Linked DNA regions of Homo sapiens. The protein of the gene in region 1 purifies or fractionates together with the protein of each later gene. This does not show direct contact. Each region holds a gene or a part of one and is shown in the gene's direction. Other genes may lie near its edges.

Region 1 (4,018 bases):
AGGAAATTAGGACACAGACACACAGAGGGACGGCCACGTGAGGACACAGAGAAGACAGCATCTGCAAGCCAAGGAGAGGGGCCTCAGGAGACACCAGCCCTGCTGACCCGTGATCTCAGCCCCCAGCCTCCAGGCTGCTGTTCACATCCCCCAGTCGGTGGCGCCTTGTTTTTTTGTTTTTTTGTTTTTTGTTTTTTTGAGATGGAGTCTTACTCTGTCACGCAGGCTGGAGTGCAGTGACGCGATCTCAGCTCACTGCAACCTCCACCTCCTGGATTCAAGCAATTCTCCTGCCTCGGCTTCCCAAGTAGCTGGGACAGGCGCCCACCACCACACTGGGCTAATTTTTGTATTTTTAGTAGAAACGGGGTTTCACCATGTTGACCAGACTGGTCTTGAACTCCTGACCTCAGGTGACCCACCCACCTCAGCCTCCCAAAGTGCTGGGATTACAGGCGTGAGCCTCCACACCTGGCCAGTGGCACCTTGTTATGGCCGCCTGAGCCTACTAAGGCAAGGCTGGGAAAAAGTACCCCATCTCGTGTGTACCCCATCTCGTGCATACCCCACAGAGTTCCAGGCTGCCTGGTGCTCCAGGTACTCCCCTCTAAGGGAAGGGTGGAGGGGGTGCAGAGATGGAGAACATACCCTTTCTGGAGTGACACATGAACCCAAGACCCAGTAATTCCCAAAGGAAAGTGGGGGTGAAGCAGGGTGGGCTCCAGACAGCACAGAGAGGTCAGGGACAGAAGTCAGAAGAGATAAGGTGGGGGTGTCCCAAGAGCCAGGTTACCCAGTGCATGGAGTTTGGACTTGGGGCTGGGGGTGGGGGGTGCAGAGGGAGGTCCCGTAAGGCAGTATCAGAATAGTATCAGAATCGTTTTAGGAGGCTCGGCCTGCTGCTTTGTGGAGGATGGCTTGGGGCATGGGAGGGGCCAGGGAGGGAACCCAGTGCAGGTGTGAGCTGCCGGTGCTGCAGACCCATCACAAACCTCCCCCTCAAAGAAAGCACATCCGCCCGGCAGAGCTCCTAAGCCTCGAGCAGCTGCCAGGAGACTCATTTCAATTAGGACACATGTCTGGAGGCCACCCCAAGGTGGCTGGGGGCAGAGTGAGGCAGGAGGCCCTGCAATTCCAGGGTTGCCCAGGCACTGAGAATCCTGGCTCTCATCATAATGGGCTGAGGTTCTGGGGACAATCTGAGTGGCGGCTCTGAGCAAGCTGAGCCCAGGGAGGCTTTGAGGTACACAGGGTCCCTTGGGGGGCCTGAGAGCAGCCATGAGGAGGCACAGTGAGACAGATGTGGAAGAGCAGACCCAGGAGCTGAAGACCATCACTCAGCTCCAGGGTGAGCCTGCACCGCCGTGACCAGTCTCCCTTTCCCGTCTGGGGGTTTCTGGGTGCACAACTTTTTGTGGGGAAAAGAGAGATCAGATTGTTACTGTCTATGTAGAAAAGGAAGACATAAGAAACTCCATTTTGATCTGTACTAAGAAAAATTGTTTCTGCTTTGAGATGCTATTAACCTGTAACTTTAGCCCCAACTCTGTGCTCACAGAAACATGTGCTGTATTGAATCAAAGATTAATGCATTTAGGGCCGTGCAGGATGTGCTTTGTTAACAATGTGTTTGCAGGCAGTATGCTTGGTAAAAGTCATCCCCATCCTCCATTCTTGATTAACCAGGGACACAGTGCACTGCAGAAAGCCGCAGGGACCTCTGCCCAGGAAAGCCTGGGAATTGTCCAAGGTTTCCCCCCACTGAGACAGCCTGAGATATGGCCTCGTGGGAAAGGAAAGATCTTACCATCCCCCAGCCCGACACCAGTAAAGGGTCTGTGCTGAGGAGTAGTGAAAGAGGGAGGCCTCTTTGCAGTTGAGATAAGAGGAAGGCATCTGTCTCCTGCTCGTCCCTGGGAATGGAATGTCTCAGTGTAAAGCCGACCATTCCCATTCGTTCTATTCTAAGATAGGAGAAAACCGCTCTGTGGCTAGAGGCAAGATATGCTGGCAGCAATACTGCTCTGTTACTCTTTGCTACACTGAGATGTTTGTGTAACGTGAAACAAATCTGGCCTACGTGCACATCTGGGCATAGTACCTTTCCTTGAACTTATTCATGATAAAGATTCCTTTGCTCACATGTTTCCCTGCTGACGTTCTCACCACCTGTTGCCCTGCTACACTCCCCTCACCAAGATAGTAAAAATAATGATCAGTAAATACTGAGGGAACTCAGAGACCAGGGCTGGTGCAGGTCCTCGCATGCTGAGTGTGCCAGTCCCCTGGGCCCACTGTTCTTTCTCTATACTTTGTGTCTTTTTTTTTTTTTTTTATGAGATGGAGTCTTGCTCTGTTGCCCAGACGGCAGTGCAGTGGCGCGATCTCGGCTCACTGCAAGCTCCACCTCCTGGGTTCACGTCATTCTCCTGCCTCAGCCTCCCAAGTAGCTGGGACTACAGGCACCCACCACCATGCCCGGCTAATTTTTTGTATTTTTAGTAGAGATGCGGTTTCACCGTGTTAGCCAGGATGGTCTCGATCACCTGACCTCGTGATCTGCCCGCATCAGCCTCCCAAAGTGCTGGGATTACAGGCGTGAGCCACCATGCCCAGCCTCTGTGTCTTATTTCTTTTCTCAGTCTTCATCCCACCTGACGAGAAATACCCGCAGGTGTGGAGGGGCAGGCCCCCTTCACTTTTAGGGGATGTTTGTTTGGAGACAGAGTCTCGCTCTGTCACGCAGGCTCGAGTGCAGTGGCATGATCTCGGCTCACTGCAACCTCCACCTCCCGGGTTCGAGCGATTCTCCTGGCTCAGCCTCTTGATTAGTTGGGACATCAGGTGTACGCCACCACACTCAGCTAATTTTCGTATTTGTATTTTTATTTATTTATTTATTTTGAGACGCAGTCTCGCTCTGTCACCCAGGCTGGAGTGCAATGGTGCAATCTCAGCACACTGCAACCTCCACCTCCCGGGTTCAAGTGATTCTCCTGCCTCAGCCTCCCGAGTAGCTGGGATTACAGGTGCCCACCACCACGCCCAGCTAATTTTTGTATTTTTAGTAGAGACGGGGTTTACCCATCTTGGCCAGGCTGGTCTCAAACTCCTGACCTCAGGTGATCCATCCGCCTCGGCCTCCCAAAGTGCTGGGATTACAGGCATGAGCCACCGGCGCCTAGCTTATTTATTTTTTTGAGACAGAGTCTCATTCTGTCGTCCAGGTGGAGTGCAGTGGTGCAATCTCAGCTCACTGCAACCTCCACCTCCTGGGTTCAAACAATTCTGCCTCAGCCTCCTGAGTAGCTGGGACTACAGGCACACACCACCACACCCAGCTAGTTTTGTATTTTTAGTAGAGATGGGGTTTCACCATGTTGGCCAGGCTGGTCTCGAACTCCTGACCACAGGTGATCCGCCCACTTCGGCCTCCCAAAGTGCTGGGATTACAGGTGTGAGCCACCGCTCCTGGCCTAGGACTTTTAGTTTTAATACAGGGACAATCCAGGACATGGAGGGGAAAACAGACCCCCCTACTGCCCACTCCCTGACAGAGCTGGGAGAAGGGATCAAAGGGACCTGCATGGAGGGACTAAATCAGAGAGAGGGGCTTCAAGGAGACGTGAGCATAAGAGCAACACGGGCCCCAAAGCCAGAATGGACAGGAAAACACCCACCTGCTTCCATGGGCAGCAAATCTGGACGGGACCACAGGACCCTGCCATCCCTCTCCTTTGCCTCACCCTCCCCACCTGTCCACCTCCCCGCACCTGTCCACTGAGAGCCCTTCAGACAGCTGCTGCTGGGCAGTGGAGCGGTGTCCCCCAGGACAGGGCGGGAGGAGGGATCTTGGCCATGGAGGGGGCATCCCCCTGGACCCTGGGGCCTGGGGCCTCCCTGATGCAAGCCTCCCCCAGGGGATTCCAGGCCAGGCCCTTGGCCCAATCCTAGCCACTGTGTCCCCTCCACCTGCCCACAGAGCAGTGTCGGGCACTCCAGATCCAAGGGGTGAAAG
Region 2 (3,500 bases), on another chromosome or scaffold:
CCAAAGTGCTGGGATTATAGGCGTGAGCCACTGCACCCAGCTCAATTCTTGCTTTTTAATTTATTTTTAAGTTAGAGGCAGGTTCTCATCTGTCACCCTGACTGGAGTCCACGATCATAGCTCACTGCAGCCTCTACCTCCTGGGCTCAAGAGATCCTCCCCCTTCAGCCTTCGGAGCAGCTGGGACCACAGGTGCACAACACCACTCCTGGCTAATTTTTAAATTTGTTGTAGAGATGAAGTCTCGCTGTGTTGCCCAGGCTGGTCTCAAACTCCTGGGCTCGGGCAATCCTCCTTCCTTGACCTCCCCAAAAGCCCTGGGATTACAGGTTTGAGCCCCCACACCTGGTCCTAAAATTTACCTTAGTATTTATCAGTTATATGTTCATACACAGCCAAAATGTCAAACAGCACCATAGGCTTAAAATGTGCTGCCCCTCCTACCCTCCCCACCCCTGCCCCTCCTACCTCCCCTCCCGCTGCCCCTCCTACCCCCGCGCCGCCCCTCCTACCCCCCCACCCCTCCTACCCCCATCCCGCTGCCCCTCCTACCCCCCACCCACTGCCCCGCTGCCCCTCCTACCCCACTGCTGCCCCTCCTACCCACACTCTTGCCGCCCCTCCTACCCCTGGCGCCTGCCCCTGAGGAGCAGCATCTTTTCAAGCTATTTCTTCTGGTGTTTTTTTGTTTGTTTGTTTTTGTTTTTGAGACGAAGTCTCGCTCTGTCGCCCAAGCCAGAGTGCAGTGGTGTGATCTCGGCTCACCGCAACCTCCGCTTCCCGGGTTCCAGTGATTCTCTTGCCTCAGCCTCCTGGGTAGCTGGGACTACAGGCGTGTGCCACCACACTAGGCTAATTTTTGTATTTTTAGTAGAGACGGGGTTTCGCTATGTTGGCCAGACTGGTCTCGAACCCCTAACCTTGTGATCCACCCGCCTCAGCCTCCCAAAGTGCTAGGATTATAGGTGTGAGCCACTGCGCCCGGCCATTTAGTGTTTTATTGAAAACATTTATGAATACATGCCATGCTGCTCATTCCTGAACAGCTCAAAATCAGTCCTGGTAGGTTATTCACACCACCCAAATTGGCAGATGAGCCGCGCTCCAAGAACCAGCTGTTGAACGTTTGTGAGTGCAGGCTGGTGCCAGGTGCAGGCCAGGCTGGTGCTGGGCGTGGGCTGGTGCCTGGTGCGGTCCGGTGCAGGTGTGGTCCGGTGCAGGTGTGGTCCGGTGCAGGTGCAGGCTGGTGCAGGTGTGGTCCGGTGCAGGTGCAGGCTGGTGCAGGAGCAGGTTTCGTGCATTGCTCTGCTCTCTGCTTATCCTCATTCCCATCATGTTCTGTTGGTTTGATTTTGGGCCTCTGACATGTTGGTCTTTGCCCAGATGTCTTGGTGGTTCTTGTTAAAAGGGAGGCCCTAGGAGTTAGCTGGAAGCCTATTGCCTGGTGGCTTCACTTCGGGGCACTGGTGCAGAGAGCAAGGCATTGTTGAGTATCCCCACCTACCAGTGTCTGTGGGACCCTCCTCACAGGCTGAGTCTCTCCAGAGACAAACCCCCAGCCCGCCCCAGGGTTCGAGTCCTGGCTGCCCGGTTGCACTGCTGGGGAGGGGTGGCGGTGGCTGTCCTGGGTGAATCACCCATCTCTGCCCCACCTGCAGGGCCAGCTGGGGAGGGCAGGGTGGATGCTAGCGGCTCAAGTGAGGGAAGGGGCTTTGCCGAGCAGCCAGATTCTCCCCTTTGCCTCAAAGCCTGTCCATGCCTGTGGGAGAACAGTGTGTCTCCGTGGGGGCACGGGACCTGCCAGCTCCTCGCCCTCCCTCCCCACAATGCCTGGACCCTCCCTTGTGTCCCAGTTGCTCTCTGCTGGCCCTTCTGTTTCTAATCCTCCAGGTCTGCAGATGCCCCTTTCCTGCAGTCTCCCCATCCCTCCTGTCAGCCTCGGTATTGGTCCTGTCCTCCCGCCTTCCTGCGGGTCTGCGGAGGGGCAGAGGCAGAGAATGTGGCTTCCATCCGTCGTGTGGGATGGGGCTTCGCTTCTGTGAGTCTGCTCTGGAAGCTGATTGTGAGCTGCTGGCCTGAGCTGCTCCCCCCGTCTTGGGCACGTCCAGCGTTCATGCCTCGATTCTATCCCCTGCCCCGTGGGAGCCCCTGGTCCAGCTTTCCTGTCCTGGGAAGAACCCCATCATCAGGGCGCAGGCTGTGGAAGGGGCCTGGGGACACTGGACGACAATGCTGCCAGCACGTAGCAAGCACTGAAGGCCTTTGTTCCCTCCCAGCCCGTGCTGCGAGTGTAGCTCTGAGATCTCAGGCGTCCCCTCCAGAGGCCTGACCATTCCTGTCTCTCTTCCGGCCTGGCAGGAGCAACAAGGGAGCAGTGGGCAACTGCGTCACCACCATGGTGCACAACCGCTACACCCCCTCGGAGAGGGCGCCTCCGCTCAAGAGCTCCAACCAGACTGCCCCCTCCCTCAAGTAAGGTCTTCTGGGGAGGCCGCGGGGCTGCGGGGTCCGACCTCAGTTAGGGCATGTAGTCAGTGCACCTGGGGTCCGACCTCGGTCAGGGCACGCGGTCAGTTCACACAGGGTTCTACCTTGGTCAGGGCATGCGGTCAGTGTGCATGGGGTCCAACCTCGGTCAGGGCACGTGGTCAGTGCACGTAAAACCGCGTGGAGCAGCTGTGAACCGGGCTCCCCATCCACGTCCGCCGCCCTCTTCTGTTCTTGGGTCGGCAGCTTCCCACAGAGAGAAAACAGCCCAGATGTGGCACAGTGAGGTCTGGGGCTCACCCTGAGGTGGGGCCCCCAGGAGGAAGCCAAGGCTTGTGCAGAGCCCAGAAGGCGTCACAGCGGGGGTGGACCGAGCGGGGCAAAGGAGCCCCCGAGTCCACCACCACATGGTCTTGCGGGGATTGGGGATGGCCTTGGGGTTGCTCAGGGGTCCCTCAGGCTCTGGACTCCTGTGACTTTTGGGAACTTTCTCAATGGAATTTTTTTTTTTTTTGAAATGGAGTTTCATTCTTGTTGCCCAGGCTGGAGTGCAGTGGCATGATCTCGGCTTACTGCAACCTCTGCCTCCCAGGTTCAAGCGATTCTCCTGCCTCAGCCTCCCGTGTAGCTGGGAGTACAGGTGCCCGCCACCATGCCGAGCGAATTTTTTTGTGTTTTTAGTAGAAATGGGGTTTCACCATGTTGGCAAGGCTGGTCTCGAACTCGTGACCTCAGGTGATCCGCCCGCTTTGGCCTCCCAAAGTGCTGGGATTACAGGTGTGAGCCAGGGCACCCAGCCTCTCAATGTAACTTTAGTGAGAAGTTTTTAAATGCAAAGAGCTCATTATCCTGGGTACCAGTGAGTGGGACCTTGTCAGGGCACAGGTGGTCCAGAGGCCAGGATGTGGCACGGGAGAGCCGGCCTCGCACCTGCCGCTGTCCCCCTCTGCCCCGGCTGCCAGCCTGCCAGCACCACTTCCAGGCTCAGTCCTGGGACTTCCGGGAGTGGGCAC
Region 3 (3,500 bases), on another chromosome or scaffold:
ACACTTGGTGCTTGGGGAGATGGGGCTGAAGGAGAGTTGATCTGTACCCATCACAGACGTGGACAAGAATGGGTGTCGGGTGGACCTTGGCAAGCCCAGCTTTACTAATGTATAGGAAAGGGTGTGGGACCAACAAATGGATTGGGGGTTTGGGGCAGGGCGGAGGAGAGGTCCCAGACACGTTGAAGGTGGTCATTGAAGCTGAAGCTTTCTGTTGGAGACCACAGAGTGCAGCTGGCCGTCTGCAGATCCATCTGCCCCATAGGTGTTGTTTGATCGCCTTCAGGGGTTTTTGTTCAGCATTTCCCCATGAACGTTTTCCAGCATATAAGGCTGAAAGAATTTCCAGTGAATACCTGTGTATCCACCACCACCTAGGCTCTACCAATAATATTTCCCCTACTTACTTGCCTTTTATTATATATATTCCCCCATCCATCAAAATTTGTAAAGCTTCCTGTAAAAAGATGGATTTCTGGCCAGGCATGGTGGTTCATACTTGTAATCCCAGCCCTTTGAGAGGCTGAGGAGGGAGAATTGCTTGAGACCAGGAGTTCAAGGCCAGCCTGGGCAACATAGCGAGACTCTGTCTCTACAAAAAAATAAAAATAAAAAATTCATTGGACATGGTAGTGCACACCTGTAGTCTAAGCTACTCAAGAGGCTGAGGCAGGAGCATTGCTTGAGCCCAGGAGGTTGAGGCTGCAGTGAGCTATGATTGTACCATTGCACTCCATCCTGGGTGACAGAGCAAAAGTTAAAAAATAAAAAACCTGAGTAGTGGTTGTTTAGAACACACATTGTTGAGTTTCCCCCAATCCCCATATCCGTGACACGGAGACCTTAGTGTCATCTGCCTCTCCCTGTACTTGGCCCACTTCACCCATTTGTTAACAGCTGAACACCTGCTACACACAATGAGCAATGATTATCGTTCTTTTTGTTGTTGTTGTTTTTGCTGTTGGAGACAGAGTCTCCCCCTGTCACCCAGGCTGGAGTGCAGTGGTGTGATCTCAGCTCACTGCAACCTCTGACTTCCAGGCTTAAGTGATCCTCCCACCTCAGCCTCCCAAGTAGCTGAGATTACAGGCACCTGCCACACCACGCCTGGCTAATTTTTGTTATTTTTTGTAGAGACGGGTTCATGTGCCCATGCTAGTCTGGGACTCCTGAGCTCAAGTGATCCGCCTGCCTCGGCCTCTCAAAGTGCTGGGATTACAGGTGTGAGCCACTGCGCCTGGCTGATTATAGTTCCTAAATTGAAGGGGACTCTGGGTTGAAAAGCTGGGTAGGAGGAAGATTAGTGGTATGAACTGCAGTTTGGAGAGGATAACAGGCCCTCCATGGATCCTGAGTAAAATATCAAGAGAATTACTCAGTAATTCTCTGCTTCAAGACTGAGCTCTTGGGCCTGGCGTGGTGGCTGATGCCTGTAATGCCAGCACTTTGGGAGACCGAGGCGGGCGGATCATGAGGTCAAGAGATTGAGACTGTCCTCGCTAACATGGTGAAACCCCGTCTCTACTAAAAATAAAAAAATTAGCTGGGCATGGTGGCGCACACCTGTAGTCCCAGCTACTCGGGGGCTGAGGCAGGAGAATTGCTTGAACCTAGGAGGTGGAGGTTGCAGTGAGCTGAGATTGCGCCACTGTACTGCAGCCACATGTCAGATGCAGGAGACTCAGAGCACACAGCACAGTGAAGAAACAGGGTACCTTGGAATAACGAGGACCCTGCCACCAGCAAGTATTTGTCAGTCACCTAAGAGAAATATATTCAGCTGGGCCGGACTTCTTAACAACTGGCTTATTCATCACGGGTTGAATGAAAAAGCCTTTAAGGGACCAAACAGAGCATCTATTGATGCCCCCATCAGCTGACAGCTTATTCGAATTAGCCCCAAATGGCAGCACAACATTTCAGCAACAGGTTTTCATGTCCACAGGTTCCGAGGAGATCTCTCAATCGCCAGTGCAGTCGGTGGAGCCCACTCGCTGCGTCCTCCTGGAGCCTGCGTTTGAATTTAGGTTAATGACTTAAGATCCTGTTTTATTTGGAGATGTTCCCAAATAAAGGGTGTGAGGCGATGAGAGCCACGCCTGGGAACAGGGCCTGGTCTGCCTCTACTTGCTGGGTGCAGATACTTCTCTGCTTACAGCCAGGAAATGGGGAGGGTGCTGCGGGCGGCAGCAGGGATGTGGTCCGCCCTCCTCATCCTTCCAACGCTGTAAATCATCTGTTTGTTCTTTCTTTGGAGTCTTCTTGCACAATGGCTCTCGCCACGCCTCTCTGGCCTAGGCACCATTACATCACCCTGGGTGCATCCGGACTTTCTAGCAACGGCTTTGTTTACTTGATTGAGTAAAGAGAAGTTGGCCTTTTTTAACTTTTAAATTAGACCTTGCGCCTTTCTTGTGGGAAGTGTTTTCTCTTATGTTTGTAGAATCTAGGATGGGTGTTTTGTGTTTTCGGTTTTGATTTTTTTTTGAGATGGGGTCTCTGTCACCCAAGCTGGAGTGCAGGGGCACAATCTTGGCTCACTGCAACCTCCGCCTCCCGGGCTCAAGCGATTCCCCTGCCTCCCGGGTAGCTGGGACCATAGGCACTTGCCACCACACCCAGCTATTTTTTGTATTTTTGGTAGAGACGGGGGTTTCACCGTGTTGGCCAGGCTGTTCTCAAACTCCTGACCTCAAGTGATCTGCCCGCCTTGGCCTCCCAAGTAGCTGGAACTACAGCCGTGCACCACTATGCCGGGCTAATTTTTGTATTTTGGTTTCGCCATGTTGCCCCAGGCTGGTGATTTTTTTTTTTTTTTTAAGCGTTGGCCTGGGCTAGAGTGCAGTGGCATGATCATAGTTTACTGGAGCCTCAACCTCCTGGCCTCAAGCAGTCCTCCCACCTCAGCCTCCCCCATAGCTAGGACTGCAGGTGCATGCCACCACGCCTGGCTGTTCTTAAATTTTCTGTAGAGATGGAGTCTTCCTATGTTGCCTAGGCTAATATGCCTCTGCCACCTGAGGTGCTGGGATTGCGGCATGAGGCACCGCACCTGGCTCTGGGTGTTTGGTGAAGGAAAGTAATTTGGAAGCAGAGCAGGAATAGAATCGAGAGAGCACGGGAACGGGCAGGTGATCTGGATTGAGATGGTTTAGGGCTGGTTAGCATAATTGCTTAAGGACACCTGCTCAGGAGGCTGGGGTTTGGTCTTGGCCCAGTCATTTGCTACTGGTTGATTCTGGGCTAGTTAAGTAATTGAGTCTCAGTGTTCATGTCTCTGAAGTGGAATTAAACGAGACAACATAGGAAGTGTACTTAGCCTGGAGGCCAGCACAGAATAAGTATGTAATGGATGTTATTGCTGCAGCTGGCAACAGGGAATCATTGAGAAGTGCGCTGGACTGTTTCTTTGGTAATTAACAAGATCTCCCTCTCTGTCTCTCTCCTCTCCTTTTCTCTCCCTTTCCCTTCCTCCATCTTCTCCCTCCCTTCTGTCTTAG
Region 4 (2,539 bases), on another chromosome or scaffold:
AGGATGAAATATTCTAAAATTGATTGCAGTGACAGTTATACAATTCTGAATATACTAAAAACCACTGAATTAAACACCTTAAATGGGTGAATCATATGGTATGTGAATTATATCTCAATACAGCTATTATTAACCAGAAAAAGGAAGTCCAGCTACATCCTGGGTGGCTCTTGCCTTCATGTGAGACCCAGCATGTGGCTCAGACTGATCTCAGCCTGTGATTTGTTGAGTGTAGCTCTGTGCCATCATGGCCTCTCACTGATGAGCCACTGTCTTTTCTAAGCAGCAAAGGCAGAGGATGTGAAGAAAGTCCGGGAGACGGGGCTGCACCTGATGCGGCGAGCGCTGGCCGTGCTCCAGATCTTTGCTGTTAGCCAGTTTGGTTGTGCCACAGGCCAGATCCCTCCAACCCTGTGGCAGAGGGTCCAGGCTGACAGAGACTACTCTCCCTTGCTGAAGAGGCTGGAGGTGTCAGTGGACAGAGTGAAGCAGCTAGCCTTGAGGCAGCAGCCACATGACCATGTCATCACCTCTGCCAACCTCCAGGACCTCTCTCTGGGAGGCAAGGATGAGCTGACTATGGCTGTGCGGAAGGAGCTAACGGTGGCTGTGAGGGACCTGCTGGCCCATGGACTGTATGCCTCCTCCCCAGGGATGAGCCTTGTTATGGCTCCTATTGCTTGTTTGCTGCCAGCCTTCTCCTCGGCCCCAGAGGCCATGCACCCGTGGGAGCTCTTTGTAAAGTACTACCATGCTAAGAACGGCCGTGCTTATGTGGAATCCCCAGCCCGGAAGCTCTCCCAGTCCTTCGCCCTTCCTGTTACGGGAGGCACTGTTGTCACCCCCAAACAGAGCCTACTGACAGCCATCCACATGGTGCTGACAGAGCATGACCCTTTTAAGCGCAGTGCAGACTCAGAATTGAAGGCCTTGGTGTGCATGGCACTGAATGAGCAGCGTCTGGTGTCCTGGGTGAACCTCATCTGCAAGTCCGGGTCACTCATCGAGCCTCACTACCAGCCCTGGAGCTACATGGCACACACAGGCTTTGAGAGTGCCCTCAACCTGCTCAGTCGCCTCAGCAGCCTCAAGTTTAGCCTCCCTGTAGATCTGGCTGTGCGCCAGCTCAAAAACATCAAAGATGCCTTTTGATGAGAGTGCCCTAACCCCAGACAAGCTCCTTGTTCAGTAGGGATAGATGTGCTAGTCTTCTAGCATAGGAGCAAGGAATCAGAGGTGGGGTTAAAGGCATTTTTCCCAGACCCTGCTCAGGCAGTCGGCCAAATGAGTGCAAAGTCTGTTTTCCCCACCAACTTAGCTCTCGGAAAGATGTGCTGGAGGGACCCTCTTGTTAAGAAGGTTCTGCCAGGCCGGGCGCGGTGGCTCACACCTGTAATCCCAGCACTTTGGGAGGCCGAGGCGGGCGGATCACAAGGTCAGGAGTTCGAGACCATCCTGTCTAACACGGTGAAACCCCATCTCTACTAAAAATACAAAAAAATTAGTCGGACATGGTGGCAGGCACCTGTAGTCCCAGCTACTCGGGAGGCTGAGGCAGGAGAATGGCGTGAACCCAGGAGGCGGAGCTTGCAGTGAGCCAAGATCGCGCCACTGCACTCCAGCCTGGGCGACAGAGTGAGACTCCGTCTCAAAAAAAAAAAGAAGGTTGTACCCACAGTATACGTGTGGGCACTTGTGCTTGAGCCTGTATTAAAGGAATCAGGCCAGGCACAGTGGCTCACGCCTGTAATCTCAGCACATTGGGAGGCTGAGGTGGGCGGATCACCTGAGGTCAGGAGTTCAAGACCAGCCTGGCCAACATGGTGAAACCCCATCTCTACTAAAAATACAAAAATTAGCTAGGCGGGGTAGTGCATGCCTGTAATCCCAGCTACTCAGGAGGCTGAGGCCGGAGAATCGCTTGAGCCCGAGAGGTGGAGACTGCAGTAAGCCAAGATCATGCCATTGCACTCCAGCCTGGGCAACACAGGGAGACTCCATCTCAAAAAAAAAAAAAAAAAAAAAAAGACATTCAACTTGAGGCTCCTGTTAGTTAAGCTATCTTCTTTCACTTGAAGCAGGTTTGAGAGGCCTAGGCCAGAATTTAAATTCCTTTTATGAATAGATTTCCCTTTCTTCCTGACCCCAAGGTCAGAGGAGACTATATATTCCATGGCTGCCTCTAAGACTAGGAATAGGAATATCTGAAAACAGCATTTCTAAGGGTGGTAACCACAGGTCGATTTTAATACGAGTCCTTTTTCTTGTAGAGGTAAGTAAAATCTTCCTGACAAGGTAGTCCTCTTTTCATGGCACAGACAATGGGCTTTCTGTTTATGAGGGGTGAGAAGTGATGTTTGTTACTATGTTCTCCAGCAAGTAAACATTCCTCTGCTCACCTCCCAACAAGACTAACAGTCTTTTTAGAAGTAAATATATTCAAGACAAACGAGAAAATCCTGGCTACCCAAGTCGAGTATATACAGGAATACAAATCGGTAACCAGCAGCTGTTCCTCAGGTTGTGACTCACTGAGCAC
Region 5 (3,500 bases), on another chromosome or scaffold:
AGCATTGAAAAATACAACATCTGAAAGAAAAAGGCTAACAAGAAGCAATAGCCCATTTTTTGCCTTTGGCCATAGTCAGGATGTGATGCTTATTTTGCCATAGTCTTCTGGTCATGAGGATAGCTAGCCTGAAGACAAGGCCCATGTACTGCGCTACATATGGCAGAGCAAGAATATAGGAAGGGGTTGGGTACGGTGGTGCATGCCTGTAATCCCAGCACTTTGGGAGGCCAAGGCAGGCGGATCACTTGAGGCCAGGAGTTCGATGACAGCCTGGCCAACATGGTGAAACCCCGTCTCTACTAAAAATACCAAAATTAGCCAGACGTGGCAGTGGGCGCCTGTAATCCCACCTACTCCGGAGGCTGAGTCAGGAGAATCGCTTGAATCTGGGAGGCAAAGGTTGCAGTGAGACGAGATTGTGCCACTGCACTCCAGCCTGGGTGACAGAGTGAGACTCCTCTGTCTCAAAAAAAAAAAAAAAAAAAATATATATATATATATATATATGAAGGATCTGGGTCTCTGGGCCACTATAGGTTAGGTTAACCTGGGAACTTACCTGCCACCAGACATCTTGTACTGGGAGAAAAAGAAAACGCACTTATTTAAGCAACTTCTGTTTGGAGCTTATGATACTAATCTGAGAAAGAAAGCATTGTTAGGGCTCAGAAAATTATACCCCCAAATATGCCACTTTGGACTTCAAATCGAGAGAACCTGGGGAGCCAGAAATGCAAGAAAGGGTCTTCTCTGAAGTTCCCCTATCTACCTAAAGGTTGTATCCTCCAGAAGATATTCAACTTGTGAATCTCTTTCCCAGACATCTCAAGTCAAATAGATGTATACTGAAGGAAGATTGGAGTTGACACCACACCAAGCCCAGATAAACTTTGTCTCAGACTTTCATCTCTTCTTTGGGCCCATTCATCCCCCCTAAAGATTATTTACTCATCCTGTAAATTGCCTTACATACCCCACTTCCCTCTTCCCTATGAAGAGGGTATTTAAGATTTAGCCATCTGGCCCTTGTTTGAGTTTCATACTTTGTATGACTCCACACTTGCCACACTTGCACATAATACCTTTGTATGCCTTTTCTCCTGTTTTCTTTTTTAAAGGACTTTACACAGATGATTAAGGATTTTAAAATGAGATTATTCTGGATTATCACAGTGGCCCCTAAATGCAAACACATGTATTGTTATTTGACCACAGAAGAGGAGAGAGTGTTGTGACTGCAGAGGCAGAGATTGGTAATGCAGCCATCTGAAGCTGGAAGAGTCAAGGAAGGCTACTCCCCTAGAGCTTCTAGAAGGAGAGCAGCCTGCCTTCATTTTGGCACAGTGAAACTGATTTGGGACTTCAGGCCTCCAGAACTGAGAGAATGAATTTCTGTTGTTTTAAGCTGCCAGTTTGTGGTAATGTGTTACACCTGCCATAGGAAATGAAGCTAGGTATAGTTACAAGGAGGACCATCAGATTCATTTAAATCTCTGCCTTCACTTTATTTCAGAGGGTTTGTTTGTAATTTGGGAGGACAGACGATAACCAAATTACAATAGAAAAATAAACCACCACTGGAATAACAACCAAAACCTCCATTCATGTTTTGTCTACTCTGTATTTATAGTTTCTAGGAAGCTGGGAAAAGATGGAGGTGATATCTAAATGCTCTTTTTGATTTTTTGAACTTGTTCCTTCATTGAGTTCTCAGCTTAAGTGATGCTCTCAGTTGTCCTAGGGTTAAACTGTCAAGAATTGAGATACTGTTTTTAGTTGAAAGCTTTAGGCACCTAAATTTTATTCGTGTCAGAATTCTACCTAACACACACCAGGCATTGTAAGCTTCAGAAGGAGGTAAAATCATTTTATTCAGGCTGCTGTTCTAAGAAATTGCTCTGAATTTTCCCAGCCATTCTTTCCTTTCTATCCTTCTTAATAAAACAGAAAAACCCAGAAATTTTTTTAAATAAATGATTTATCAAAAGAAACAATATATATTAAGTGGCTTTTTGGGGGATACATTTAGTTGCTGAAAGTAGATAACATATGGCATTTAATACTCCTGGACCACTCTGGGTCTTTTCTTTGACGGTAAAAAGGGGTGGGGGTAGAGATAGGGATGATTGTCTCAGATTTAGAACAGGGCTTAATTGCTTTTTTCAAAGACTCATGTCTTTAATTATGAAGCAAGCAAACTGACATACATTTATTACATGGTGAAACCTTGCATCTCATCTAGTCTATCTTGTAGCAATTGCTTCTGAACAGATGTTACCTGAAACACCTTTGTGCAGTTGGTGGAATGCTAAAATTTGTCATGCTTTTATTATTGTTGTCTTGAATTAACTCTACTTTATGGCGTAACTTTATTGCTGTGTCCTAGAATCTTTATATATTTATTGCCTTATAAATTGGATTTAAAATTGGCTTTTTATATAGAATGTAAATTAACATGTGTCTAACTTGTTTATGCTGCAGAATAATACAGGAAAAAACTGCTACGTATTACACTAATGTAATTGTCTTTAACTTAGCACATAGTATCCTCTAAACTAGGAATCAAATGAATGCTAAAGAATATGCTTATCCTTACACTCTTGCTTGTTTATCTCAGAAACTAATTTGACTTTTAGATCTATAAAATATAGATTAAGCATAACCTTTTACTTCATGGGATATTAAGGATCAAAGCATGGGCTTTCTTTGAACAGGATCTACAAAGGTAACTTTTCTTTCAGTAGCAGCAGGATGGCATTGAAATACCTTACCATTGGGAGTAATTTTTCTCAAATAGCAAATTGAATAGTCTTTATTAACTTAGGGGAGAATTTAAGAGTTTAAATAAGCTTTGGTCCTGAAACATTCATGTTACTAGTTACTTAGTGAAATCTATTTGGAAATGCTTGCCATAGATTTTATTCTTCAAAAGACCCACTGCTATCTTTTCTTACAGTTTTTTGTAGAAGAAGCGTTATGAGTAACATTTATGAGCAGTGACTTGAACCACTCTCAGGGGTTGAATCCCAGCAATATCACTTATTAGCTGTGTGAACTGAGCAATTACTTAACCGTTCTCTGTGCCTCCCCTTTCTCATGTGTAACATGGGGTTGTCATGAAGATTAAAAGTTATGTTTTGGGCCTAGAATACCTGGCTCATTGTAACCTCTATGGAAATATTTGCCATTTATAGGATTGTTGTTTTTGTTATCATTAGTAGTAACAGTAATAATAGTACAATTTTTGCCTACACTTTAGGGCATTAGGAATACATTGGATATTTGAAAAGCTTTCTAATCTTGGAAAACTTAATTGAACCAGGCTATTTCCTCTTGGTGTGCTGGAGGCAGAGCCATTCTGTTCTTAGTTCTTATCCTGGCATACCAGGTAACATTTGGATTGATGCAGAGTTCTGATCTGATGACTGAATGGTCAGAGCAAGTTTCTGAAGCTTTCTTAGGGGCCTGTTCTTTATGTCTAAAGTGGGGATAATAGG
Region 6 (3,500 bases), on another chromosome or scaffold:
ATTATGATTCCAGCCAAGACATCGACATAAATATACCAAAGGGAAGGACCCTGAGAGTGTGATGCAGAGACCAGTGGTGTGATGTTATACAAGGTCTTATTTCCTACATTGTTGGTTCTCACTGCTGGCTTCATGACCCTCCATCATAATCCAAGTTATCTCAAGACGTATAACTCTTACCAACCCAGTTTTTAAAAAATGTATTCTCAGTGACATTCTTAGAAGGATGGAGCACATATTCAAGCATATAATAGAATGCCGTATAACTTTAGAAAGTTTGGTAGTTACAGCTCAAAGCTATCTGGAGATGAAATTAAATATGTGAAGAGAAATTATAAATAAAACTGCCAACAGTGACTACATCTGGAGGGTGGAACTAGGGGGGGAATCAGGGACTTTCTCATGTCTATTTAAAATTATTTTGAATAAAGATTATATTTATCTGATATAAAATTATTAAGATATAAAATAGTATACCATGGAAAGTGTCCCTTCTCGCTCTGTCCCCCAGATACTCTGTTTCCCTCCCCAGAGGCAACCATGATTAACTGTTTCTGGCATAACTCCCAAGATACTGGATGCATGTAAAAGCAAATGCTTATTTTTTCCTGTTTTTCTACACAAAAGGTTGTCCATTATTGTCACTTTTAAAACAAAAAAGTTTAAGAAAACAACAGTGGTATATGAATTTAAAAAGAAAAATTAAGACAGTGAGATGTAGATAAAGAGACAGGGTAGAGTTCTCACTTCCTGGTCTAATCAGGCATTCTAAAGAATGTACATAAAAGGAACCAGAGTTAAGAACTCTGTCCTATATCATGAATTAACTTGCATGTTTCAAAGAATTTGGGACTATAGAACATATTTTGGGATTAATATAGTCTGAACTTAGTGTAGTAGTTACTTCTGGTTTAAAATAGTATCTCAATTTCCTTTTCACCTTAAATAGACTTAAGGAACAAATATATGTGTAGTTTGCTTGACGTTTTACATAAAAGAAATTTAATATATGAATTAAATTATAATTGTGTATTTTTAGGATATATCACATTAATTAAAACAGTGAATAATGTGGTACATACATATAATGGAATATATTTGACCTCAAAAAGGAAGAAAAATTTTGACACATGCTACAATATAGATGAAGCTTGAAGACATTATGCTAAGTGAAATAAGCCAGTCACAAAAGAACAAATATTGTATTATTTCAGTTATATAAAGTTTCTAGACTAGTCAAATTCATAGAAACTAGGATGATAGTTGCTAGGGTCAGGGAGAAGAGGGGATGGAAAGGTATTGTTTAATGGATGCAGAGTTTCAGTTTGAGAAGATGAATAAAAGAAAAAAATGACATTAAATTTTGTCAAGATAGCATATTGAAAATATAATAGAAAAATATTTGTTTATCTGCTATAATATATTATGTCATAGGTGTTATCTTCAGGAAGGCACACTGGACCTGCTAAATTAACAAATGGAAAGAAAGCGTAAGTACTTGAAGACGTTTACAACTTCAGATTTCAAGGAATTTTTCAGGTCTTTGGGCTGGATGACATGTCGTCTACCCCAGAAAATTAGGTAGGCCTCTACCATCACAAGCTCTGAGGAACAATTTTTCATGTCTACCCATGTTAATCATTTTAGTATTTAACAGTCTTTCTGATCTTCAGAATGTGTTTATAAATTCATCTTGTACATGGTTGGACAAGCTTTCTTGTCTTTGCTGGAAAGAAAATGACTACTTACTAATATATTTTGGGAAAAATATTTGTAAGAATATTAATAAGCTTGTTTTCCAGGACCTATTTAAGAAAAATACCACGTTTTAATGCAGATTCTGGCTATTCCATCCATTCTGATTCAGAAAGTCAGGTAAGATTGAATAGATACAATACACACTATTTTAATTAGTTTTCAAATAGTAGCTAAAAAGTAGGAATAAAATGCAAAGTATTAATTGCTCTAAGGAAGTATGAAGTCTGTTGCTTTAAAACATCTTTTCTACCAATAATAGTTTGTAAATAAACAAATTTTAAAACTACATAATTTATATTTTTTCCTACACTAACAGTCATATACAAATGTATTCTAAATGACTTTATTTCTTACAGGCTGAAACTGTACACGGGCTTGATGGTTGTGCTTCTTTGCTGAGGGACATTTTGAGAAATGAAGATTCAGGTTTTTTTTTTTTAATTCTTTGCTGATCACCTTATCTCAAGTCATTATTTTGATGTAACAAATTTTTGTTTTATTAATAGGTTCAGAAACAGCATATTTAGAAAACAGATCTAATTCTAGACCTTTAGAAAGCAAAAGATACGGATCAAAAAAGAAAAGACATGAAAAACATACTATTCCTTTGGTAGTCCAGAAAGAAACATGTAAGCCTTTTTTCTCTTAGTTATTTAAAGATAATCCTTAATTGTGGGTATTTTGATCAATTATCAGGATTATACAGTTGATTTTCATTTTAATAATCAGTATTAGTTAGGTTTATGTGTGCTTATGCCTTTCTGTATTCAGCTTCTAATCACTGAGTAGTCCACTTTGCTTGCTATCATTTTCTCAAGAAGAAAAATAGAAAAAGAGACTGTCAGGGTTTTGTAGGAGAAAAAGTTCAAACTCAGAATGACATTTGGGAGGTATATAGAGTGATCTTAGTTTCCCCTGCCACTTGTTTTCATAGATAATCATAAATTGGTTGTATTTCAAGTGTATACTTCTAGTAGTTGCTTTAAAATTATTATATTTATATATATATATATCCTAAGTTGGTCAAGCTGAACTTGTCAAGCTACACAGTTAGGATACATGGTACATAGGAAGGTAAAATCGGATGAATAAGGAAAGGCTGCTGCTGATTGGTGGTGAGTATAGCCAAGGGTACTTTACACCCTCACGGCTAACTTTTCCTAGTTTAGAACAAGAAAGTTTTGATTATGTTGTCCCTTGGAGGCCTAGAAAACAAGATAGCCCAAAATGAAGATGAAAAAGTCCACAGTGGGAATTCAGATGGACTAGAATTAGACTAGCCAGTTCTATAGTTCAGGTGGGCCAGAAATGTCAGCACTGTAGTACGTGCTTAGATTCAGCTTGGGCAAGGAATGAAGTTTAGAAAGTCATATAAAGCAGTAGCCCTATAAAGAGATCAGGATTTAAGCAAGGAGGCTGAGAAAGTGTCAGTAGAGCATTCATGGGACTAGAGGTTGATGTTTCAGATAGTCCCAAGGTAGAGAACTAAGGCAAGGGAAACCTAACTCATCTTGGAGGCCAGTAATGATAGCTTTATATTATCTTGACCTGTGCTATTCAAGATGGTAGCCACTGGCCACATGTGGCTATTCAGCACTTGAAATGTGACTAGTACAACCAAGGAATTGAATTTTAATGTTATTTAATTTAATTTAATTTAAAATTAAATTAGAAAACTGATAATTGATCCAGTTATTATAAAACTTTTAAGTATGTTTGGAATAACTTGGGCATGTGAACCT
Region 7 (3,500 bases), on another chromosome or scaffold:
TGTGTGCCACCACACCCAGCTAATTTTGTATTTTTAGTAGAAATGGGGTTTCACCATGTTGGTCAGGCCAGTCTCAAACTCCTGACCTCAGGTGATCCACCCACCTCAGCCTCCCAAAGTGCTGAGAGTACAGGCATGAGCCACCATGCCCAGCCTACAATGTTTGTTTCTAAAAAGCATTTAAAGCAACTTACCATAAAAGCACAGATTTAATAACACCTAAAATGTAAAACTTGAATAGGGAAAAATGAGATCTAGAAATCCCTGCCAAGAACAGTACAGCGGTTTTTTATATCACGTTGAGCGCCTGTTATGTGTCATGTGTTATTCTGGATGCTGGGAGCACAGTGGTAAGACAAAGCCCCTACCTTCAATGAGATTATATTCTTGAGGAGAAGAAGGATAATAAACAACAAAAAAGCCACACAAGTATTTTCGTTGCTGATTAGCACTCTGTGGAAAACAAACATAAAAAATAATAGCTAACCTTTATTGAGTACTTACTACGTGCATTTTTAAAGTACATTAATTTAAACTTCACAACATCTTTATGATGAGGTAGTTGTTATTTGCCCCCTCTTACATATGGGTCACTTACCCAGTGGCTGAACTGGATTTGAATACAGTAGTTCAGCTCAAGAGCCGTTAATCATGATGTCATATTATCTCTTAAAAATTAAGAAATGTGCACGACTGAAAACCTTACTGAGTGTGGAAGAAGATATGGGTAAATATCATGGTAAATACTATGATTCTGAATGGGAAGACTTAATTTTCTTACAATATCCATTCTCCCCAAGTCAATCTGTAATTTCAACTTCTAATAAAAATCCTAATAGGATTTAAAAAATTGATATGTTGATATTAAAATTATTTTGGAATAGTAAATGTGCAAGAACAGCTGAGAAAAATTTGAAATGGGCTAATAACAAGAGGGATCTTTGCCTTTTGAGATCTCAAAATATATTTTAACATTATAATAAAGTAGCATACTTCTGATAGAATAGGCTAATAGTTCAATGGAACTGAAATATATTCATATATTTAGGGAATTTAGTTTATAGTTATAGTGCTATTTCAGATGAGATGAGTTTTCCCTAAATGATACTAGGACAATTGGCTCTCCATTTGGAGGAAAAAATTTAGATATGTATCTTATAGACAACTATAATTTCTAGGTGAATTAAATGATCTAAATGTAAAAAAATCAGAAAAATACTAGGAGAAAGTATGGGAAACATTATGACATTAAGATGGAAAAGCCAAAGGTTCTCCTACCGAAACACAGTGTTTACAAGATGAATGTCACGCTGAGAGATAGAACATCTATAAGAGAAAGGGTGAACATCCAGAATGTATAGAGTTCTTACAAATTGATTACAGGAAAGACAAACCAGTAGAGAAATGTACAAAGACTAAACAGCTGATTTTCAGAAGAGATTCAAATGACTAGTTACTATGGAAATAGAAACTAAAAAACGTGACTATCAAATTGTCAAAAAAAAAAAAGATAATATCTAATATTATCAAGGGCACCACCGCATAGATTGCTGATATTAGCACAGGCTTTTTAGAGAGCATTTTGGCAGTGTCTGTTAAGGTGAAAAAAATGGGCATATGTTCTGACCCAGCAGTTCTATTTTTAGGAATCTCTTTTCCAGAAATACTTGTCTAGATGTTTAAGAGTATATGTCCTTGTAGCATTACTTATAATGGCGAAAAATTTGATATAATGTAAATATCCACCAATTGGACAGTGGTTTAGCCTATTTATGGTATCTATACTTTATCCATAGTTTGAAGTAGTTTGTTGATATTGTATTGAGTGTTACACTACTTTGTAACATCAACAACAAAACCCAAATGTAAAGGGAACTGCAAGTGTAATCACTCAGCTTTTATTTTTCTCTAGCTATACCAAATGGTTTTGGTACCAGTCCACTAACTCCCTCTGCTAGGATATCAGCACTAAACATCGTGGGGGATCTCTTACGGAAAGTAGGGGTAAGTTTCAATTATTTATCACTAGGTGTTTCCACTGACAAGGTATTGAATTATTTCTTAATTTGAAGTGAGGGAAGAAAGAAAGGATACTTTCCTGTGGTAAAGGCTGTCATGAAGCTCAGAAGCAAAAGCATCCATTGACTAGCCAAGTCCAGATGACACTTCATGATGCCCCTGCAGAAGAGCCTGTACCTTGAACTCTGAGGTTCCCACCGGGGCATTCTTCCTGTTCCCCACTCCTGTTTCAACAGCACGATGCCTCTGTCCTTGTCTAGAATACTTTGTCTAAGGCCTGCTGTGTGTCTTCTACCACCCTCATCCTGGTCTTTGCTGCTGTCTACCGTCTTCCTGGTCATTCCTTTGTTTTGTGTTTGTGGGACTTTAACATTTGGCTCATGGCATTACTCTCTACTTTTAGTCTTGCCCACCTTATTTCCTTGGCCACCTCAACTTCAGTGCCTTCTCCTTGGTGTGAGCCTTGTATTCCAGAACAGTTTCGCTTCTGAAATATTAAACCCAGCCGGACGCGGTGGCTCACGCCTGTAATCCCAGCACTTTGGGAGGCTGAGGCGGGTGGATCACCTGAGGTCAGGAGTTCAAGACCAGCCTGGCCAACATGGTGAAACCCTGTCTCTACTAAAAATACAAAAATTAGTCGGCATGGTGGCAGATGCCTGTAATCCCAGCTACTTGGGAGGCTGAGGCAAGAGAATCACTTGAACCCAGGAGGCGGAGGTTGCAGTGAGCCGAGATCGAGCCACTGCACTCCAGCCTGGGCAACAGACAGCAAGACTCCATCTCAAAAAAAAAAAAAAAAAAAAAATTAAACCCGTTTTTCTGCTTAATCAGTGTGTTACTGTGTACCATACCTACTCTTTAACCTCATCAAGAGTATTACCCCATTTTTTAGTGTGTTTGTTTTTATCAGCCATCTCTTGCTTTCACTTCCTTTCTATTCATCTGTGATCTCACACATCTCTTACTCTGTCACTGTTGACTTCATGGTCTCTCTGGCCACAAAGGAGATCTGCAGTCTGAATTACTGGAAACAGTTGCAGAACCATGTGGATTTATGCCACTATCAAGTCAGCATTTCTAGCATTAGCTCCCATTACTATTTCCCTTAGTGAGTTTTACCTCTCCTTTCAGTAATCAACCATTGCCATTTCCCACTATCTACTACCCCCTTCACTTATTTTCGTGTGTGACACTTTCTAAAAAATGTAGAAATTGCATTATACTTTATCTAAAGCAGATATGGGAGGCCAAGACACAGGTCCTATGTTTGCCTGTTTCAGCTCATCATAGGGGTTATTTTCTAACCATCAGATTAAACCTGCATTTTTAAGGTTAAAATACAAAGTAAAGTGCACAGGTCGTTCCTACAGTACATAGAGTAATCTTTCTTCACTCCCAAGATAACCATTTTAAAATCCTCTATGTTGGAGTATTTGTCTTTATAACTTGAAATCATGTGCTTATTTTTCTGTTTATCT

The links.
Region 2: the proteins of CCDC183 (region 1) and CEP131 purify together in Homo sapiens (affinity purification with mass spectrometry; 3 studies listed by BioGRID and IntAct, with this or other methods). This does not show direct contact.
Region 3: the proteins of CCDC183 (region 1) and NDE1 purify together in Homo sapiens (affinity purification with mass spectrometry; 3 studies listed by BioGRID and IntAct, with this or other methods). This does not show direct contact.
Region 4: the proteins of CCDC183 (region 1) and RUNDC1 purify together in Homo sapiens (affinity purification with mass spectrometry; 3 studies listed by BioGRID and IntAct, with this or other methods). This does not show direct contact.
Region 5: the proteins of CCDC183 (region 1) and DIAPH3 purify together in Homo sapiens (affinity purification with mass spectrometry; 3 studies listed by BioGRID and IntAct, with this or other methods). This does not show direct contact.
Region 6: the proteins of CCDC183 (region 1) and CCDC14 purify together in Homo sapiens (affinity purification with mass spectrometry; 3 studies listed by BioGRID and IntAct, with this or other methods). This does not show direct contact.
Region 7: the proteins of CCDC183 (region 1) and NDEL1 purify together in Homo sapiens (affinity purification with mass spectrometry; 3 studies listed by BioGRID and IntAct, with this or other methods). This does not show direct contact.

Annotation. Positions count from the first base shown.
Region 1 is NC_000009.12:136,795,120-136,799,137, forward strand, and holds the start of CCDC183 (coiled-coil domain-containing protein 183), read left to right. Parts: upstream 1-1,218; 5' UTR 1,219-1,278; coding exon 1,279-1,348; intron 1,349-3,982; coding exon 3,983-4,018.
Region 2 is NC_000017.11:81,202,466-81,205,965, reverse strand, and holds part of CEP131 (centrosomal protein of 131 kDa), read left to right. Parts: intron 1-2,358; coding exon 2,359-2,472; intron 2,473-3,500. UniProt on the Homo sapiens protein: Component of centriolar satellites contributing to the building of a complex and dynamic network required to regulate cilia/flagellum formation.
Region 3 is NC_000016.10:15,670,745-15,674,244, forward strand, and holds part of NDE1 (nuclear distribution protein nudE homolog 1), read left to right. Parts: intron 1-1,664; exon of another isoform or gene 1,665-2,027; intron 2,028-3,500. UniProt on the Homo sapiens protein: Required for centrosome duplication and formation and function of the mitotic spindle. Essential for the development of the cerebral cortex.
Region 4 is NC_000017.11:42,990,565-42,993,103, forward strand, and holds part of RUNDC1 (RUN domain-containing protein 1), read left to right. Parts: intron 1-283; coding exon of another isoform or gene 284-286; coding exon 287-1,152; 3' UTR 1,153-2,539. UniProt on the Homo sapiens protein: May play a role as p53/TP53 inhibitor and thus may have oncogenic activity.
Region 5 is NC_000013.11:60,153,929-60,157,428, reverse strand, and holds part of DIAPH3 (protein diaphanous homolog 3), read left to right. Parts: intron 1-3,500. UniProt on the Homo sapiens protein: Actin nucleation and elongation factor required for the assembly of F-actin structures, such as actin cables and stress fibers. Required for cytokinesis, stress fiber formation and transcriptional activation of the serum response factor.
Region 6 is NC_000003.12:123,954,730-123,958,229, reverse strand, and holds part of CCDC14 (coiled-coil domain-containing protein 14), read left to right. Parts: exon of another isoform or gene 1-1,434; coding exon 1,435-1,490; exon of another isoform or gene 1,491-1,802; coding exon 1,803-1,875; exon of another isoform or gene 1,876-2,114; coding exon 2,115-2,184; exon of another isoform or gene 2,185-2,264; coding exon 2,265-2,387; exon of another isoform or gene 2,388-3,500. UniProt on the Homo sapiens protein: Negatively regulates centriole duplication. Negatively regulates CEP63 and CDK2 centrosomal localization.
Region 7 is NC_000017.11:8,452,884-8,456,383, forward strand, and holds part of NDEL1 (nuclear distribution protein nudE-like 1), read left to right. Parts: intron 1-1,912; coding exon 1,913-2,004; intron 2,005-3,500. UniProt on the Homo sapiens protein: Required for organization of the cellular microtubule array and microtubule anchoring at the centrosome. May regulate microtubule organization at least in part by targeting the microtubule severing protein KATNA1 to the centrosome.